Regions from separate parts of the Homo sapiens genome. Here region 1 is linked to region 2. Evidence: fine-mapped expression QTL. A gene starts in region 2. The other region holds a variant in brackets. All regions are shown on one strand. Distances are from middle to middle. Region 1 has its middle 32 kb from the start of LGSN. Region 2 holds the start of LGSN (lengsin, lens protein with glutamine synthetase domain).

Region 1 (11,205 bases), 32 kb before region 2:
GCATTACCATTCAGGACATAGGCATGGGCAAGGACTTCATGTCTAAAACACCAAAAGCAATGGCAACAAAAGCCAAAATTAACAAATGGGATCTAATTAAACTAAAGAGCTTCTGCACAGCAAAAGAAACTACCATCAGAGTGAACAGGCAACCTACAGTATGGGAGAAAATTTTCGCAACCTACTTATCTGACAAAGGGCTAATATCCAGAATCTACAATGAACTCAAACAAATTTACAAGAAAAAAACAAACAACCCCATCAACAAGTGGGCAAAGGATATGAATAGACACTTCTCAAAAGAAGACATTTATGCAGCCAAAAGACACATGAAAAAATGTTCATCATCAGTGGCCATCAGAGAAATGCAAATAAAAACCACAATGAGATACCATCTCACACTAGTTAGAATGGCGATCATTAAAAAGTCAGGAAACAACAGGTGCTGGAGAGGATGTGGAGAAATAGGAACACTTTACACTGTTGGTGGGACTGTAAACTACTTCGAACATTGTGGAAGTCAGTGTGGCAATTCTTCAGGGATCTAGAACTAGAAATACCATTTGACCCAGCCATCCCATTACTGGGTATACACCCAAAGGATTATAAATCATGCTGCTATAAAGACACATGCACACATATGTTCACTGAGGCAGTATTCACAATAGCAAAGTCTTGGAACCAGCCCAAATGTCCAACAATGATAGAGTGGATTAAGAAAATGTGGCACATATACACCATGGAATACTATGCAGCCATAAAAAAATGATGAGTTCATGTCCTTTGCAGGGATATGGATGAAGCTGGAAACCAGCATTCTCAGCAAACTATCGCAAGGACAAAAAACCAAACACCGCATGTTCTCACTCATAGGTGGGAATTGAACAATGAGAACACATGGACACGGGAAGGGGAACATCACACACCGGGGCCTGTTGTGGGGTGGGGGGAGGGGGGAGGGATGGCATTAGGAGATATAACTAATGTTAAATGACGAGTTAATGGGTGCAGCATACCAACATGGCACATGTATATATATGTAACAAACCTGCACGTTGTGTACATGTACCCTAAAACTTAAAGTATAAAAAAAAATTGGGGGTTGTGATTTTAACTTACATTTCTTTGTAACCATAAAGATGCTTTAAAGATTGGAAGACAATTGGTCATGTTGCAGTTTTGGCACTTAACATCCTATATTTTCAGGAGAAGATATCTCTTCTCCTAGGTATATGCATGGCACAATTCCTCAGTGTCTGTTCACATCTTACCTTCTCTATCCAAATGTCACATCTTTGACTACCTTACCTAAACATGCCTCATCTCTTGACTGTTACTTTTATTTCTTTTACTCTGCTTTATTTTTATTTTTCTTATTTTTTAACTTTTTGAGACAGAGTTTTGCTCTTGTCGCCCAGGGTGGAGTGCAGTGGCATGATATCAGCTCACTGCAACCTCTGCCTCTCAGGTTCAAGCGATTCTCCCACCTCAGCCTCCCGAGTAGCTGGGATCACAGGCACGAGCCACCACACCCAGCTAATTTTTGTATTTTTTTAGTAGAGATGGGGTTTCATCATGTTGTTCAGGCTGGTCTCGAACTCCTGACTTCACGTGATCTTCCTGCCTTAGCCTCCCAAAGTGCTGGGATTATAGGCATGAGCCACTGTGCCTGGCCTGCTTTATTATTATTTTTTTAAATGTGGACTATGAGTTGAATTGTTTTTCCCCAAAACGATAACTTGAAGTCCTAACCTTCAGGATCTCAGAATGTGATCTTATTTTTAAATACAGTGTTTGCAGATGTAGTCAAGATGAGATTATTAGGGTGGGCCCTAGTGCAATATAACCGGTGTCCTTATAAAAAGGGGAAATTTGGACATATATATATAGATGTGCGTAGAAGGAAGAATATGTGAACAGATACAGGAATAACACCATGTGAAGACAGAGTACTGGCGAGGTCCAGTGGCTCACGCCTGTAATACCAGCACATTGGAAGGTCAAGGTGGGTGGGTCACCTGAGGTCAGGAGTTCACAACCAGCATGAGTAACATGGTGAAACCCCGTCTCCACTAAATACAAAAAATATTAGCCAGGCATGGTGGCACATGTTGTAATCCAAGCTACTTGGAAGGCTGAGACAGGAGAATTGCTTGTACCTGGGAGGCAGAGGTTGTGGTGAGCCAAGATTGCACCATTGCACAACAGCCTGTGCATCAAGAGTGAAACTCCGTCTCAAAACAAAACAAAAAGACAGAGTACTGGAGTGATGCATCTACAAGCCAAGGAATGCCAAAGATTGCCAGCAAACGACTAGAAGCGAGAGAAAGGCCAGGAAAGATTTTCCTCCAGGTTTCAGAGACAGCATGGCTCTGTGGACACTTTGATTGAACTTCCAGCCATAAGAATTAATGACACAATAAATTTCTGTTGTTTTAAGTTACCCAGTTTACAGTACTTGGTTATGGCAGCCCAAAGAAATGAATACACCACCTGGCATAGGATGTACTCTTTTTGTTGTTCAATTTCTGCCTGCCTCTACTAGACTAATTACCATGAGGAAAGAGACAAAGTACATTTTCTTCACTTTTGTGCCCCAAGTACTTAGAACAGTGCCCAGCACTCAATACATATTTGCCAAGAGAATGTAGGGATATTTTATTTTTCATTTTTTTTTAAATTGATACATAATATTTGTATGTATTTGTAGGGTACATGTGATATTTTGTTATATGCATAGAATGTGTAACCATCAAGTCAGGGTATTTAGGATACACATCACCTTTTCCATTTATCATTTTTATGTGTTGGGAACATTTCAAGTCCTCTGTGTAGCTATTTTGAACTATACAATACATTGTTGTTTACTGTAGTCACCCTTCTTTGCTATGGAACTTTAGAAACTATTCTTTCTTTTTCCTCCCCTACACCCACACCCACACCCATACCCTTCCTAGTCGTTAGTAATTGTCATTTTACTCTGTACATCCAAGAGATCAACTTTTTTTTTTTCTCCCATATATGAGTGAGAACATGCAATATTTGTTTTTCTGGGTCTGGATTATTTCACTTAACATAATGATCTCCACTTCCATCAATGTTGCTGCAAATGGTATTATCTCATTCTTTTTTATGGCTAAATAGTATTCCATTGTGTATATGTATCATATTTTCTTTAATCATCTGTTGATGAACACAGGTTGATTCTCTGTCTTTGCTGTTGTGAATAGTGCTGGAATAAATATGTGAGCGCAGATGTCTCTTCAACATACTGATTCCTTTCCTTTGGATAATTGCCCAGTAGTGATAGATCATATGGTATTTCTATTTTTAGTTTTTTTGAGAAATCGCCATACTGCTTCCATAGTGGCTGTACTAATTTACATTCCCATCAACAGTGTACAAGAGTTACCTTTTCTTTGCATCCTCACCAGCATCTGTTATATTTTTGTCTTTTTAATAATAACTATTCTAACTGGGGTAAGATGGTATCTCATTTTGGTTTTAATTTACATTTCCCTGATGATTAGTGACGTTGAACATTTTTTCATGTATTTGCTGGCCATTTGTGTGTCTTCGTCCAAGAAATGTTATTCAGACCTCTTGCCCACTTTTTAAAGGGATTATTTATTTATTTTTTTTGCTGTTTGAGTTCCTTATGTATTTTGGATATCAGTCCCTTGTCAGACAAGCAGTTTGCAAATATTTTCTCCCATTCAGCAGGCTGTGTTTTCATGATATTGATGGTTTTCTTTGTTGTGCAGAAGCTTTTTAGTTTAATATGGTACCATTGTCTATTTTTATTTTTGTTACCTGTACTTTTGAGGTCTTAGCCATAAAGTCTTTGCCTAGACCAATGCCCTAAAGTGTTTTCTCTAGGTTTTTTCCCTAGTAGTTTTATAGTTTGAGGTCTCATGTTTAAGTCTAATCCGTTTTGAGTTGATTTTTATATGTAGTGAGAGATAGGGGTCTAGTTTCATTCTTCTGTGTATAAATATCCAGTATTCTTAGCACCATTTATTGAAGACGGTGTCCCTTTTCCCAATGTATATTCTTGGCAACTTTATAAAAAAAATCAGTTGCCTTATATGTAGACTTATTTCCAGGTTCTCTATTCTGTTTCATTGGTCTATGTGTCAGTTTTTGTATCACTGTAATGATGCTTTGGTTACTATAACCTTGTAATATATTTTGAAGTCAGGTGGTGTGATGTCTGCAGCTTTGTTCTTTTTGCTGAGGACTGCTTTGGCTACTCAGGCTCTTTTTTGGTTTCATGCAAATTTTGAGATTGTTTTTTCAATTTCTGTGAAAAACATTATTTTTTCTTTTTTTTTTTTTTTTTTTGCTACAAACTGCTTCTTTCTAAAAGAGAAATCTAAGTCCAGGTATTAATGAAGTAGGAAAAATTTCAATAATTATAAGAGTATAGTAGAAAACTTCACCTTACGTTCTGTTATGGTTCCCTACAAAATACTCTGTGATAGAAGCTATTTCTCTGGTAGGGAGAGTCTTAAACATCTGTGAGCATATCCAGGAAGGCACTGTTGCCAGGGATGGGAACATTTTCTGCACAGGAGACCCTGTTAGGTACTAAGGATCAGGTTTTCCTGTGTGTCTCAGGATGTTGCCTATTGCCTCTTGCCTGTTGGGTCTGCAACAGAAATCTGCAATTTCTGGCCAGACTGCTCAATTTCCTTC[C/T]CCTTTGGTGTTACTGACCTCTGCTGTTAAAAAGCAGCGCCTCTGCTTGCCTCTAAAGCTACTCTCTGGTTTCCAACCATTAAAACATTCAATAACCAATCTCATCATTCTGGAAAACAAATATCCTGGAGCTCAAAGGCTACAGAGACTTTTCCAATTATTTCCTAAAATGGCTTTTTAGATTTGAAAGTTCTTCTGTGAGAACCAGGGTCACGTGTCTGTCTTCAGCGTTACAGAGAAAGACAGATGGAGGTTGTTGCGCTCACAAGAGAAAAGGAAACTTAAGGCAGCTTCCCCTTTTCTTGACCACCGGATGTGTCTTCTGCAACTTCTGTGAACTCCAGTAATTGAGGTCATATTGTGGCATTAAAAAAAAATCCAGCTGTTTGCATGGTTCCCTTAATCCTTACTCTTATCTAATTCAACCACCTAATCTGGCCAAGAAATGTGAGGGGAACAAAATTCTATCCCTTTGTTTGAGAGACAGATGAACAGTCTCTAACATAACCCACAAATAAAACTGTGTGTCTGTGTGTGTGTGTGTGTGTGTGTCTGTGTGTGTGTGAGAGAGAGAGAGAGGAAGAGAGAGAGAGAGAGACAGACTGGAGTGCGGTGGTGTGATCATGGCTCAGTGAAGCCTTGATGTCCCAGGTTCAAGCAATCTTCCCGCCTCAGCCTCTTAAGTAGCTGGGACCACAGGCATGTACCACCACACCTGGTGAATTTTCGTATTTTTTGTAGAGATGGAGACTCTCTATATTGCCAGAGCTGGTCCCGAAATTCTTGGTTCAAGCAATCCTGCCTCAGCCTCCCAAAGTGCTGGGATTCTAGGCGTTAGTCACTACACCTGGCCAAACAAAACATTTTTAAGATTATTGATCTTAGTGGAGTCCTTGTGATAAGGCATAAGCATGACATTCCAAAATAGAAAGAATACAAAACAATGGATTTGCGCATAAATATCTCTACTAACATGTGAGTTTTGGAAAATTCCCTATTTCATGAATCATTAGCTTGTAAGTTTTGTTTTGATGTTATACAAGCATTTCTAAAACAAGTCTGTGTAGATGTTGCCACCTACTGTTTGCCTAGAAACATCCTTCATATAATTCATTTCATGTAACAATAGTCTTTTTTCTAATTGCATTTATTTTCCAGGAAGGTCATTTCTGTCTCAACCATTTCTTGTTTTAAAATTATTTGTCTATTTGTTACTTACTCTTAAGTACCATATCTACGAGGTCATTACAAGAAATTCTTTCTTTATACATTGGAAAATCCTGAGGCAATGACACAATTTTCTTTAAATGTTCTCTGATATATTGAAACAGTAAATCAGTCTCAGGTTTAAAAAGACTATACAGTATATGTCATTGAAACATCATTTAAAAAATTATTAGTCTCCATGTAAATCAAAGTGGTCAAGATCATTAGATTGCTGTTAGTTTTATTTTGACATTCATATTTAAGATATTTAGGCTGAGTGTGGAGGCTCATATCTGTAATCTTAGCCCTTTGGGAGGCCGAGGTGGGTGGTTCACTTGAGGCTAGGAATTCGAGACCAGAGTGGCCAACATAGGAAGACCCCGTCTCTACTAAAAATACAAAAAATTAGCCTGGCATGGTGGCGGGCACCTGTAATCCCAGCTGCTTGAAGCTGAGGCACAAGAATCACTTGAACCTGGGAGGCAGAGGTTGCAGTGAGCTGAAATCGCACCACTACACTCCAGCCTAGGTGGCAGAGTGAGACTCTGTCTCTGTTTCTGTCTCTCTTTCTCTGTCTCTCTCTCTCTCTCTCTTCCTCTCTCTCTCTCTCTCACACACACAGACACACACAGACACACATACACACACACACACAGAGATATTTATAAAGCAAATATCTGCTTTTTTTCCTTCCTTTTGTCTTAATCTTTTCAGGCTGCTATTAGAAAGCACCATAAACTGGGTGGCAGATAAATATCAGAAATGTATTTCTCACAGTTCTGAAGTTTGAGAAGTCCCAGAACAAGACACTGGTAGCTTTGGTGTCTGGTGAGGGTCTGCTTCCTCACAGACAGGGTTTTCTCACAGTAACCTCACATGGTAGAAATGGGAAGGGATCTTTCTGGGGTCTCTTTTATAAAGACACTAATCCCATTTGTGAGGGTTCCATTCTGATAACCTAATCGCCTCTCAAAGGACCCACCTCTTATGTTAACCTTGGGGGTTAACATTTCCACATATGAATTTGGGTGGAAGAGACACAAATATTCAGAATATAGCACTGTAAATAGTTTTGGATGTTAGTGATTGAATGGCAAATTCTTTTTTATTAGGATAAAAAACCAATTGTTTTACTTACCAATTGGTCGTCTGAACTCGTTTTTGTTTGTTTGTTTTTTTTTTTTTAGATGGCTCTGTGGCCCAGGCTGGAGTGAAGTGGCACCATCTCAGCTCACCGTAACCTCTGCCCCACAGGTTCAAGTGATTCTCTTGCCTCAGCCTCCTGAATAGCTGAGATTACAGGTGTGCGCTGCCATGTCCAGCTAATTTTTGTATTTTTAGTAGAGAGAGCGTTTCACCATGTTGGCCAGGCTGGTCTGGAACTTCTGACCTCAGGTGATCCACCCACCTTGGCCTCCCAAAGTGCTGGGATTATAGGCGTGAGCCACCACCCCTGGCCTGAACTGTTTACTTTGTAGTTAGTTTTATGATGTGCCTGTGGCACTATTTTCAGTATGCTGTTTATTAAAACTGGAAATAAAGTAAAAAATTTTAAATCTTCACAACCAGGTTAATTTGAATGCACTGAGATAATTTATGGTTTGCAGACAAATAACTATGACTAGATCCAGTAATAATTATAATTACAAATCTGTAAAATATTTTCCAGTTTGTGAAGTCCTTTGTATATTTTAATAAATTTGGTCCTACTAACAACCCTGTGAAATAATTAATATAGTAATTGCTTTCATATTATAACCAAAGAAAGAATGAAAGAAATCAAGGTAATAATTGAATAGAACACAGCTAGAATAACTCTATAAATCCAGTTTTCTTAACTAAAAAGCTTACTCACTTTTACCATTCCTCATGAGTTAATTATTAGGTTGGTGCAAAAGTATTTGCGGTTTTTGCTAATTACTTCTGCACCAACCTTAATAATTTACATGATAGGTACTGAACTCTTTTTCAACTTTTCCTTGTTGAATGAATAGTTTTAAAATGCTTTCAAATAATCAAACATTCTTCTAAATCTTTGGGTAGGTCTCTAATAACTGAAATGGAACTATATTCATCTTCTGTGAAGCTGGCCTGGATAAACCAGCTTATCCCTAAATGCCACCAGAATGCGTTGAGAAGTGGATTGTTCCCAGTCTCCGTAGAAGGACTCAGCCTACCCAACACCTTGATTTCAGTCTTATGATAACTTGAGCACAGAACTCAATCACGTCGTTAGTACATCTCATCTACAGAAGCTGTGCTATCATAAATTTGTGTTATTTTAAGCCCTTTTTATTGTAAGACTCTGGTTCCTGTTTCCTTGCTGGTTGTTGGCCAAGGGCACTTTCAGCTTCCAGAGGCCATCTGCATTCTTTGCCATGTGGTCCTCTCCATCTTCAAAGCCCGTGGTGGAAAAACTCTCCCTTGTCGAATTGCAATCATAGTTTGAATCTCTCCAACTTCCCTGTTGCTGACCTCTAAACACAGATTAAAGGGTTTGTGATTAGGTCAGACTTTCTTAGAATGTTTCTCAACCTTAACTGATTTGAGGCCATAGCCACATCACAAATCTTTTCACAGCAACACCTAGATTAATGTTTGATTGAATACCTAGGAGAAGGTGTTTTTGCACCAAGGGTTGGGAATTTAGGGGCCTTTTTAGAATTCTACCAACCATGTTTCTCATCAGCTACAAATATTTCCTAATTTAGCCCCCAGTCTCCAGTCTCTGCCTTAATACTCTCACAATTTACATTACAGAGTGGCTTCTTAATGAATCATTCCAAAGCACAGTTCTGATTAAGTTTATTATCTTACTTAAGTCAATAACAACAAAACAACCAAAAGTTTGAGGGCAGCCTATGGCATGTAAGAAGCTCTTTGAAAATCAAGGTCTAAAGGACTCCTGTTTCTCTTCCTTTCTTCATGCATCATTAAATTGAGTATTCACCTTGTTTTTCTGTGCACAGTAAGCTCAGTGCTTTGACTTCTGCCCCCTTTTCCTTATCTTCAACTTTACAGGAACAATTCTCGATTGCTTGAAGGCTGCATTCCAATGCTAACTCTTCCAAAGAACTTTGCATTAACTTGTTCCCCTTTGAAAGCCTTTACTACGTAGTTTTAAAAATCTATACTTCTGGCCAGGTGTGGTGGCTCATGCCTGTAATCTCAGTGCTTTAGGAAGGCGAGGCAGGAGGATTGCTTCAGGCCAAGATTTCGAGACCAGCCCGGGCAACACAGCAAGACCCCACCTCTATTTTAAAAAAGCAAAAAAAAAAAAAAAAAAAGTAAAAATCTTCATTTCTAGTGTAGTTAGTATCCTACTTTGGGTTAAGATACTAAATAATGCTCCATGACTCCTACCAAACACAGATTACTGTAGGCCAGATGTGCAATAAGATGTTGTCTCTCTTCAACATCTACTAGTGCCTTGTAGAGATGATATGTTCCAAAATATTTGTTGAGCCGTTAACTAAAAAATCAAAATAGAAACTAGAATGCCATGCGCACCAAGAGCTCGTAGACCTGCATTGTGAATGCTTAATTACATTTCCATATATTTTTTTTTTTCTTTTGAGACAGAGTCTAACTCTGTCGCCCAGGCTGGAGTGCAGTGGTGTGATCTCGGCTCACTGAAACCTCCGCCTCCTGGATTCAAGCAATTCTCCTTCCTCAGCCTCCCGAGTAGCTGGGATTACAGGCATGCGCCACAGCTCCCAGCTAATTTTTGTGTTTTTAGTAAAGACGGGGTTTTGCCATGTTGACCAGGCTGGTCTCGAACTCCTGACCTCAGGTGATCTGCCCATTTCTGCCTCCCAGTCCATACTTTTATATTAGTCTGTTCTTTCTTTTGTGGCTGCTAGTTTTCAAGGTCATTGTCTCCTGAGCTGCTGTATTTACGTTAGACTATATTCTTCAGCTCTTGGCTAATATTGAATGACTAGCTTATTTATGCTTTCTTTTGTTATAAATCAGTGGTTTTATTTGTTTTTTTCTTACTTGGAGAAAGGAGTTTCTCCTCCAATTTTAAGAAAATTTTCAAGAGCTAGAAGCAGACTTGATCTTATATCTTATTTTCTTATTCACACAATTAACCTTTTTCTAATATTAGGAATATTTCCCTACAAGTCATTCCTGACTAATGGACTCTGCTGTATGAGTCATATATGACTTAGCAAGCATTTTGGATTTTTAAATAAGTTACCGCTTATTTAAGCAGGCTGCAGAAACATTAGTCATTGTGAGATTCAGCTTACATGTTTTCACTTAGTGACTAATTGAGTATAAGAATGGAACAGATATTTACGTGGTAATTTTCCAAATTTTCAAAAGACTTTGGCATCAGTTATCTTATTTCATGAAATGTGTCACTGTAAGATAAGCAGTTCCTTATCTTAGAGACCTCTCTAGCCTTTTAAGCATACTGGAAAAAGCCATCTTGGAAAACAAATGAATGAATGAAAGAATGAATGAGTGAATGAACTGATGGAATAATGATGGATTAGAAAAGACACTGAAGCAGGAAAGTCATAGACCTTGAAATTATATGTCTGAACAGTAAATTAGACCTTATAACTTAACTGAAGAGCACAAAGAAGACCTAAATCAATAGTAAACCATATTATTATAACCCTCCAAATTGTAAAAATGTCAATTTCCCCCAAATATTTAGTTAATGCAAATTCAAAGTACTTTGGAGTTCTTTTTTTTGTTTTAAAAAAGACTGGTTTTAAAATTAATCAGTAAGGAAAAATACATAAAACTAAGAAATTTTGAAAAGAAATAATGAAGTAAGATTTGCCCCATGAATTGTTTTTCCCTCTCCTACTCACCACTCATTCTCAGTTCCTCACTTCTGACACCAGATGGGTAGGATTTATTTTTCCCCACATACTAATTCTCCAGCAAACATCAACTGGGTGTCTCTGGTGGCACAGAGCTTCCAATCCCTTGAAATTTCCTGGATGATAGGAGTGCCTCTTGTTCTAATGAGGCAACTTTTGGTGGGCATCTGAATGGAGGCTGGTAACCAGAAAGACTAAGCCATGATTTGAAGACTGGAACTTTCATACTTCGCCAGGAGATGCTACCCCTCTCAGCTTCTCCATGTGTTCAGCAGTCCATAGGTCTCCCAATTCATTGTTTAGGGATTTTTATGGAGGCTTTTTCAAGAAGGCATGACCGAGCATTAACTCAATCTCCAGCTTCTCTCCTCTTTCAAAAGGATGGTGGGGTGAGCTCGAAAGTTCCAGGCCTATAATTCAATTCAGTTCTGGTAATATCTACCTAGAGTTAGAGTCA
Region 2 (11,205 bases):
GCAATAAATCTTGCTACTGCTCACTCTTTGGGTCCACACTGCTTTTATGAGCTGTAAAACTCACCGCAAAGGTCTGAAGCTTCACTCCTGAAGCCAGCGAGACCACGAACCCACCAGAAGGAAGAAACTCCGAACACATCTGAACATCAGAAGGAACAAACTCCAGATGCGCCACCTTAAAAGCTGTAACACTCACCGTGAGGGTCTGCGGCTTCATTTTTGAAGTCAGTGAGACCCAGAACCCACCAATTCCGGACACATTATTACTGATTCTACCTTGCTACTCATTATTGGTTTGTTCAGGTTTTCTATTTATTCCTTATTCAATCTTGGTAGGTTCTATGTTTCTAGGAATTTCTCCTTTTCCTCTAGATTTTCCAGTTTGTTAGTGTATAATTGTTTATAACAGTCTCTGATGATCTTTTGTATTTCTGTGATATCAGTTATGTCTCCTTTTCCATTTCTAATTTTGCTTATTTGGATCTTCTCTCTTCCTGGTTAGTCTAGCTAGGGATTTATTAATGTTGTTTATCTTTTCAAAGAACCAATGTGTTTGGTTGAACCTTTGTATTATTTTATTAGTTTCTATCTCATTGAGTTCTGCTCTGATATTTATTATTTCTTTCCTTGCACTAGTTTTGGGTTTGGTTTGTTCTTTTTGTTTGTTTGTTTTGTGTTTTTTAATCAAGTTCCTTAAGGTGCATCATTAGATTATATATTTGAAAATTTTCTCCTTTTTTTTTTTTTTTTTTTTGAGACAGAGTTTCACTCAGTCTTCTAGGCTGGAGTGCAGTGGTGTGATCTCAGCTCACTGCAACCTCTGCCTCCCAGGTTCAAGAGATCCTCCTGCCTGAGTCCCCTGAGTAGCTGGAACTATAGGCGCTCAACCACGCCCAGCTAATTTTTGTGTTTTTAGTAGGGACGGGGTTTCACCATGTTGGCCAGGATAGTCTTGATCTCCTGAATTTGTGATGTGACCGCCTCGGCCTCCCAGAGTGCTGGGATTACAGGCATGAGCCACCATGTGCAGCCTCCTGTTTTTTTTTTTTATGTAGGTGTTTATTGCTATCAACTTCCCTCTTAGCAGAGCTTTTGCTGTACCCCACACATTTTGGTATGTAGTTTTTCTATTTTCATTTGTTTCCAAAAAATTTTTTTTTATTTTCTTCTCAATTTCTTCATTGACCCAGTGACCATTCAGGAGCATGTTGTTTAATTTGCATGTATTTGTAGAGTTTCCAAAGTTCCTCTTGATGTTGATTTTTAGTTTTATTTAATTGGAGTCTGATAAAACACTTGATATAATTTTAATTTTTAAAAGTTTGTTTAGACTTGTTTTGTGTCCTAACATATAGTCTGTCCTGGAGAATATTCCATGTGCTCATGAAGACAATGTGTATTCTCAGTTGTTTTATAAAATTCATTTAATATCTTACACAATCACAGAACAGAGTTAAGAGAAACCTGAGATCATCTTGCCCTAAACCACATTTTGCACAAAAGGAAACTGTTATCAAGAAAACTATGTGATATGTCTTTAAAAAACAGTGTTTCCTATAGAACTCAAGTCTTTAATCTGCTGGTTGTTTCACTACAGCAGCAGTTCTGAAAGTATGGTTCAGGGACCCCTAGGGATTCCAAGAACCTTTGAGGAGACTGTGAGGTCAAAATTATTTTCACAGTAATGGTAAGACTCTATTTGCCTTTTCATTCTCATCTAGCATTAGTGTATAGTGAAGTTTTCCAGAGGTTGCATGACATGGGCTGTATCAAAAGAATAAATGCAAGCCGGAAGCGGTGGCTCACGCCTGTCATCCAGCACTTTGGGAGGCTGAGGCAGGTGGATCACCTGAGGTCAGGAGTTCCAGACCAGCCTGGCCAACATGGCGAAACCCTGTCTCTACTAAAAATACTAAAAGTTATCCAGGTGTGGTGGCGGGTGCCTGTAATCCCAGCTATCTGGGAGGCTGAGGCAGGAGAATTGCTTGAACCCGGGAGGCGGAGGTTGCAGTGAGCCCAGATCGCACCACTGCACTCCAGTCTGGGTGACAGAGCAGACTGTGTTTCAAAAAAAAAAAAAAAAAGAATGCAAAAACATACGAGATTCCAGTGGTTTTTCTCTTAAGCTAGACATTAGAGCAATTTGTGAAAATAAGAAATCAATTTTCTATAAAAAATGCTATTTATGTTAATATGTACAATGCCCATTATTATTATATTTTTAAATATGCTAATATTGATTAACATAACCTGTGTGTGTGTGTGTGTGTGTGTGTGTGTGTGTGTGTGTGTGTGTGTATATGAGGTTTTGGTGCTCTCAAGAATTTGTAGATATTATCACAATAAGTAGAATGATGCCATTAAAAGAAGGAAACAAGGACAACACCAGCTACCAATTTTTTAAAATTAATGGTGTTATAAAAATGTCTTCTGTGAATAGACAGTAGAGACTCAAAAGGGTGGAGTGGGATGAGTGATGAGAAATTACTTAACAGGTACAATGTATACTATTCCGGTGATGGCTACACTAAAAGCCAAGACTTCACCACTATGCACTATATTCATGTAACAAAACTGCACCTGGACTCCATAAATCTTACAAATAAAAAGAAATGTATTCTGTGGCACTCTCCTTCTAAAAATAGCTTGGGCTGTTTTGGAATAATTTTTAACTTATTATATGTGATTGCAAGCTCCTTATGTGCCTTGGAATTCAGAATTTCATGCTTCCACTTTCACAACTGACTTCATTTAACTTTATGAAGCTTGTGCTAAATATATAAATGCTTAAGGATATGTGAAAATCATTGAAAATGCTAAATTAAAATGATTTTAAACTAGTTTTAAATTGTATCAACTTTACAAAATAATTTTTTTCAGGGAGTTACGCTGTTTTCTACTCATTGCTTACTTAGGTTTATCGAAGGGGCAGATGAGAGGAGAAATTCCCTTTCTGAAACAAATGAAAAGGACACACAAAAATATTCTTCAGTTTCCCTGCCAATGTGTGTTTCCGCTCAGCCCTGAATTCACTGATTTTCTACCTGTCCTCACTCCAATATTTTTTAATCATCGGTTTTAAATCTTAATTCTGTAAACAGATCTACCATTTTCTTAGAAAATGAGGTATTTCTGGGAAGAACTGAAAAGAAATGGGGACTGGATTCATGAAAGGAACTTTTGGGGGCCTTTGTGAACAGGAGTTCTAGAACCACTAGGGAAGCTCAAATATTACTCCTTATAATTTTTGTATGATGTTATCTTCAATAAAGGGTGTCAATGTAGTCTTCCTGTTAGGTATGTCATAATTAGATGCATATAAAGGAGGAACAAACCCATGCAGCTTCTAGAACAACAACAAATCGGGAGAAAGGTAGGGTGGAAGTATCCTTCTGTCGTGGTTGTTATGTTCTTATGCTGACCTGAAACCATATTTTTGTGATTCATGAAGGTCATAAGAAAGATTATTTCCTTCACTGAACTTGGCTATTATTCTCACAAGTCAGTTATTCCCTTGGTCTCATTGGGCATGTTTTCACCCTATTTCCTTATCAGTTAGTGCTGGGAAGACAAGAACTTTGTATTTTATACACTGTACTGTAACATATAATATATGTAAACATGAAACAAAAACAGATTCATTGTGATTTCATTTTCTCCCACAGTGAAAGAATAGATTTAATCCTTTACCTAATTTGCATCCTTTGCTCTTCCAATCCTGTTCAATAATTCATCAGAAGGCAGTAACTTAGTGGTAAACAACATATTGTTTCCCCTTGTTGGTACTTAGTAAGCTTTAGCTTCTGCAATCTGTTCTCATGAAATGAATCCCATAATTCCTTTAATCATTTTAGTTACTCTTCTCTGGATCCATTCAATTAGATTACAACTTTTTGGCAGGAGAAGTACTTGAGTTGAACGGTCTTTCCATATGTTGTCTCAGAAGAGTGGTAAGAGAAAGACTTGTATCATTTACATTCATGGCTCAATGACTATATTCATTTTGACTAAGATAGCTTTCTGGATATAGTACAGATTGAACAAATGCTTGTGAATGAAAGTGTTTAATATGGACTTATTGACCATTTATTATTTTTCTAATCTATTTGTTAAGCCCTTTACTGACATTTGGTTTTTCCTTTGGAAAAACTGATTCTAAATAATGGTAATACTTTTAAAATATGTATCATGCTAATACCATAAATTAGGTTATACACCATATGTCCAACCAAGCTTTAGAACACTTTTTACAAAAATGGGCAAATCAAGGTTCAGGAAAGGATATTATAAAAAAATCATGGATACACATTGAGAAGAAGAGATTGTCAAAATAAGGTAAGGAAAAGAAGATGAAATGAATCAAATTGCATATTCAATAACAATAAAACTCCCAGGAGAAAATTTGGGTAAGTAGTACTATAAAGGAATGATTTTTTTAAAACATGTCCCAATATGTAACTGAACATGTAAACCAGCTTGGAGTTCTTTTCTTTGATATAGGAAAGGGAACATTTCTGAAACAAAAACGAAATTTTTCACAAAACATTTTTTTCCATAGCTCAATGGCACCTGTTTTGCATGGAGACAAGCACATGCAAGAAAAAGTTGTAAAAGTGGAAGCAAATGTGGTCTCAGAAGAGGATTGAGAAAAACTTAGGTAAGGCTCTGGTACAAGACATTGTGGGAATTAAACACCCTACTAGAGATCTGGGGGAAAGCACCAAGAGCAAGTCAAATACTAGGATAGGAGATAGAATCCCTTTTCTTGGGGAGGTTCAAGAGTCCAAAACAGCCATATTCAGGATGCAGTTTCAGGCTGGCATCAGCATCAGAACTAGGTCCAAATTCAAGATCTGGTTGTAGATCAGGCTACACAGAGCAGAAGCTTTAGAGTCAGTCATGGAACAAGTACCAATGGAATGGAAATAGGAATAGTTAATCACTGTCTTTAGGAAATGGGGCTTTTGAAATGGGCCAAGAGAGTCAGGCAGGATTGAGTGGTTGTAAGTATTGGCTTGGTCTTCCTCAGGCCCAGAAGACCAGGAAGAAGTGATTAGCCATGGAGACTATACACTTCCACATGGAAAATGCTTAGAGAGAATTTGGTTTGGTTCAGAAGAAACTGCATATCCTCCTTCATCAACAATACTTGAAGTTGAGTTGATAGCAGCAGAAGTGTGATTTCAAACCCCCTTTACTAGTGAAGAGAAAGCATTCCCTATTTCCTCTACTGAGTTAGGATTGTTTATGGGACCATATGGGGCAGCCTGTAGATGATTCTGTGTTCATTGTGCACAGTGGGGATGGTCTGGGATTTGTCACAGACTGACATCGGAGAATTGGAAAAGCTAAAGAAAGATATTTCAGTTTTATAATGAAGGTCCAGAATTAATTTGGAGGCCAGAGGGACCTAGAAAAGAAAATAAAAATGAGAATTACAAATGAGTGGATCTTTGCCATTGGTAAAAATCTGGGTCACTTATAGCTGTATTTTTCCATCTGTGCTTTTGTCTGTGGGCTTTGATAGCATAGTCGTCTAATAAGTGTTTCATCATCTGAATCTGACAATAGATATCATTCCAGAATACAATTGTTATGTAACAAAAATTCTGTATGTTGGAGAAAAAAATCAACCAACACAATTTTAAGCTTTGTATGTCTTTTGTTTGCAGGGAGTCAGGCGTAAACAAGCATTTGTCATTCGATTCTTCTAGTGCATTTCCAGCATACTGTGCCTTGGGCATGACACATCAGAATCTGATGTTTATCTTTTATTACCTGCCAGACCCCTCTGGAAAAGCCTCTATGGAATTCATCATCTGCAGTCTTTGTTGTAGGTACACATATAAATACATGTTGAATGCATTTGTTGAGGATATTGTGGTTTCTAACGCTGAACTTAAAAAGTGTTGAGATGAATAATGAAGAGGACCTTCTGCAGGAGGTATGAAGCTAATCATTAAAATGTTTTTAACCAAAATATTGACAGTAAATCTTTTTAAAAAATGTCAATTATTTGAATGCCAGTAAGAATAAGGGCAGCATAATTATACTTGTTATATGTCCACTCAGGAGAAGTTTATGAAGAATTGCCCTTCTGTACTACACAGTGAATTTATAAAGATAATAAAAACTAAACAATTCAAAATATTCATCTAGGAAAGCTCATTTGGTTTGAATAATCATTTAAGTTCAATAGGCACTGAGTTTCAGAAGCATAAGTATGCTATAAAAAAATTTATTTCTATTTTGGTTGTTATTGAGAGAATAATCTTTGTTTTTCTCAAAGCTTTGGCCTCTTTCTAATAAATATGCTTTGAGATTAAATGACTAAAGGTGGAAACCTGTTTTCAAATTATATTTGAAATGCACAGCATGAATAATGATAGCCACTTATAGGGTCTAGCATATATTAAAATAATCAGTTGTCAACATATAACATTTCTCCTCACTTCTTAATGTGTGTGTACCCAACCTTCACTCTTGTATTTCTGACTGACCATTCTGAAAGACTGAAGTGCAGACTTGGAGGCAAGCTGTGGTAAAATTTGGGAGGATGTGAGTTATCTTTAGTAGGTTAAGAAAATATAATGCAAGAAGCATACCTACTATGTGAAGAGTGCAGTGGAAGACCAGTGCATTATGTATGAAATAGTGGCATATAGAGAACAAACCTGGTCCCCACTTTTGCATGTAGTGGAGAAGATAGCTAACATCTAAGAATGGGTTCACTGATCTGTATAGTGAATACAAGCAGTTGTTTTGAAATAGAGTCAAGAACAAATGCACTTTCCCTAAGGGAAACTGGGCAAGGCTATGTGAAGAAGGCACTCCCTGAGGAGGAGCTGTGGCTTATCCTGTACTGTCATGTCACTGTTGTAGGCATCAAATGGTGGACATGTTTATGTGATTATAATGAATTTAGCTAAAAGTAAATTCATAGCTGCAAAGGAAGGCTTATAGAAAGAAAGTAAAGGTAATTAGCATATACATCATTAGCTTTTTGGGATTTTGATTTCTAACTATGTAACTTCTTGGACTAGTTTTACTTACTACTTCTGATCCCATGGCAGAACTCTGCTTTCTTCCCCAGCTCCCACAATTTTAGTCCAGGATTCCAGGTGATACAGCTCCCATGAAAGTCCTTAAAAGCCATGCCCTCCTCAAGACCAGTCTAGACCAAATGTTGATTGTTTACTCTTAGGAGAGCAGAAAAATGAACAATATGATTTTTAAACTGCACAATTCTCACAGCAAGAGACATTCTCTGTCTTTTGAGGAAAAGTTCCCTCAAAGTTGGAATAGAGCATTGTATTTACTAGATGTAATAAAGGTGAATCTTGGCTGGCCACTTGACCCAACTCCACTGAATAAGCTCTTTTATACTCTCCTGTATAGGTTCGCATTCTCAGGAAGTGAAAGAATATGGAAGGAGGGAGAGAGATGACATGTGACATTCCTTTTCCAGCTAACAGATGTTTGGAAAAGGACAAGACTGTGTTTCATGCTAGATGCTCTGGTAATGTGAGCAAGAGCAGCATGAAGTTAACTACAAAACACAGCAGCTGAACAAAAGCTCAGTGGATTCCGAAGGGCAGATTGTGTATATGGAGAAAATCCCTCAGAATACTTACTTCCCCAGTCTGAAGAAATTCTTTGTCAGAATATTCAGTAAAATGAACAGTTATTAATCTTAGGTTTGGTACTCCCCTAAAGAATATTTTACTGAGATTCTCTATTTAAAACAATGCTGTAAAGTCATGCATTCAGCTACATTCTTAGCAGTGGCAGACAAAAAATAGATTGAAAACACATTCTTACTTCTTAAAGTAGATCCTATGGGTGTATGAAATTGTGAAATTGAGTGAAAGAGTGGCATATCATAACAATTAAAATCTGTTTATCAAGAACCTTGTGTGTGGTGCTGAGCTGGGTAATATGTCAAGTGAGTAAGATCTGTTCCCCACCCTGCAGATATTTATAACTCAATACAGAGAACACTGACACAGGTAGACACAGTTCTGACGTTTCCATATCACAGAAGGAATGAATGCCATCTGGGGTGAAGTCAGAGACTCATCCTGCTCTGCAGCCTGTATCTGTTGGGGGCATGAAGTGCAGCCCCATGGGAGGCTCTACCTGACCTTCTAGAGGCTTGCTTCAAGAGGCTAGAGATTTACCTACCCCAGCTTTCCCTGCTTTATGCTATTGTCTGTGTGACTCTAGAGACCTCCTGATTCTTGTTTTGTATTTTCCATTTGTTTTGTCTCTGAGAATTCAGAAGATTTGTCTTCTGAAGATTTCAAGGTTTATAGTTCATTTTATAATTATTTACCTCAAACTTACCTACTTCCAGTGTATCAACTAGCTCTCCATTTAAGAATTCTCAGTGGAGAGACAAGACAAAAATTAGATTTGAGTTTCAAGGGCAGTGGATTAAGCTCGCACTTCCTGAAATGAGAATGCCTGCATTTTAATCTTGGCTCTGCTACTTACTAGCTGTGTGACATGGGGCAAAGTATTGGACTTCTCTGTACCTCACTGGGACATTAATAGTGCCTACAGGAAGGGATTTTGTGGAGATTAAATGAGTTAATACATGTAAAGTGCTTAGAACTGTGCTTACAATATAGTGAGAACTCATTAAAAAGGAGTCATTCATTACATATACTTTATTATGTTATGTTGACCTCTAATAGCTCTCCTGTTTTCATTTTTACAGCCTTAAAGAGTTTTACATGTTTTCCTTTACATGATAGAATTTGTTTGCTTATGATAGTAATGATAACAATTATATATAATATACCTTTTTACATAAACATATATCCATCCACTTCTAGCCTATTAAGGCTTTCCTAAGGCACAATGACTAGAACTATTTTTAGCAATCAGTTACAGGCATATCATAATTTTTTTAAAGGGTAGAGCACCTTCCCCTCTCACATTTAAAGTATTTTTATATTCATATTTGCAGTATTTTTATATGCTGCAGCAGCCCATTAGCTGATATCTTCACGAACAGTTCCATAACATTCTTGGATCTTTTTTCATACTATATTACAGAGCCCATTATCATAAATATATATTATATATACATGAATATTTAAATTTTTTCTACATGTCTTTTTACCTTTGAAATATTTTTGTTGCTTTTCTGCTCACCCACAAAGCCTTCACAAATTATTTTTGTCCTGTCTACATGGATAAATATATTTTTAGCCATACGATCTTAATTTCTCTAAAAAATATGGAGAATTCTTCTTTGATTTAATTATGAACATACTAAATAAAACAAAACTTTTTGCTTCCTTTATTATTTTAGTGTTCTTTATTATTTAGCTTCATATTATCAAAATCACATGGTGTTAGACCTTTGTAAAATTATGTTTTTCCTTCTCTGAAAATGTTTGGTTAGGTATATTTTTCTTGTGTAGAACTTCTATTGTAGATTTTGCATAACTTGCCCACAGAGGTGAGATTTGTTTATGGGTTGATACACACTGTTGACTATTAGCCAATTTGTTAGAAATAAAAACGAGACTCATAGCTTTTCATATGGGAGCAGCTATATCATTTACATTCTGATACTTCTTTCACACAGAGCTCTCAGTAATGATCGTTGCTCTATCATTCTCGGTCACATATGAATGTTCCACCTAATCTGCCAACTTAGGTCTAGGTTATTATCTTGTAAAAGTGGTGAGGATTAAACAGTTAGAAAGTGAAAATTTGATTGTAGAAGTGGAAATTAACCAGGTTGACCCTGACATTTGGCTAATCTCCCCACAAATGTGCTTGGAGATGAGAAACTCAACACTTTGACAAATAACCCATTCCATTTTGGGCTTATTATATTAAGTAAAATTCTGATTCATTGCAAATTCCAAGCAATTTATCTGGATTTTCCTTCTGTGCTTTGTTTTACTTCAAAAGATAGAGATACTATTGAACTCTCACTTGAAATGTGGAGTTTTTTTTTTTTTTAAGACCTGGATTTCCTTAGTTTTCTGTATTTTGTCACATATAAAGTTTGTAAGTAGCATGAAGAGATGAAATAAGAGTTGTAAACCACACATATTTGAATTCTGCTATGTTCTAGCTATGAAGCCAGTCAAGTTGCTGCATTTATCAGATCCTCAGTTGCCTCACTGAAATATATATCTATATATTTATATAGATATATAGAGAGTGAGAGCATGCATACACACACACACACACACACACACACACACACACACAGAGAGAGAGAGAGAGAACATTTTAGCTATTCTTCAGAAAAGCAAGAGAAATAATGTTTTCTCAGTATCTTAAGTGGGGTAATCATAACCGTGGTGAAAAGGCCTGATATTGAGGGTAACTACTGTGAAAAAACCCTAAAGAAAAGGTAAAATTTATAGAGTAAAGCTACAGAGGCATTGTAGAGCAGGCTTTCACTAGCACAAGCCCATCTAAGTAAAGAAGCACAGGTCTAAGCCCTTCTAGAGAAAACTTTGAAGAAGTCCATGCCATATTTTATCTAGGAAAGCTGTTTTGACTGAATCATCCTAGTGGGTTACCATCAGGTCTTGCTGACATCCAAAGAAGTCTCATTTAGAATCTTTTATAAAGGAGAAGTCTGAGTCAAATGTCCTTTCTGGCCTTATACTTCAACATGGTAGGTCTTGGTTATAATTAATTAATTAGAAATTATTTACTCAATTACTACTTTATGCTAGGCAATATGTTAGGCACAAGGATACATCTAAATGCCACCTTCTAAGAATCTTCAGTCTTTGACATGTTCTTCTTGTCATCCTTTCCTGACTTGACTTCTTATCCCATCTGTCTTGGATTCCATATCCCATTATTTTAGCATCTTCCTTGCCCAAATCCTCAACTTATTTTTGTCATTGTCCTTCTGAGTTTGTGACCTCATGAAACCTTAAACCATGGTGTCTTCACATTTCCAGCTGAGCTTTGCTAGAGAAAATAATTACCTGTGCAGATTGGTGTCACTTTAAACTTTAAAACCTCCAATTCTTTCTGGGCCCTTGATATTTTTCTTTCTTGAGTCGGCTCTTTCTCAGTTTCCACTATAACTATGTGAAACAATTTCCATTCTCCTTAAGCCTTTAGTCTTCCATATTCCTACTCTATCTGAACACTTCTTACCCTAAAGGGAAAATTGGAAGCATCACAACCCTCCACCTTTTCTTATCCAGAATG

The links.
Region 1: its variant is fine-mapped to the expression of LGSN in whole blood (TOPMed, PIP above 0.99).

Annotation. Positions count from the first base shown.
Region 1 is chr6:63,346,728-63,357,932 of GRCh38, reverse strand. It overlaps a transcript of LGSN not described here. Among named protein-coding and RNA genes, the nearest start is that of LGSN, 32 kb to the right of the region's middle. RefSeq lists enhancers at 4,691-4,780, 4,881-5,150, 5,221-5,330, 9,603-10,802. The variant C/T (reference allele first, on the strand shown) is at 4,699.
Region 2 is chr6:63,314,653-63,325,857 of GRCh38, reverse strand. It overlaps LGSN (lengsin, lens protein with glutamine synthetase domain), which reads left to right and starts at 5,875. Exons shown (of 4, transcript NM_016571.3): 1 at 5,875-5,944. The coding sequence starts at 5,915.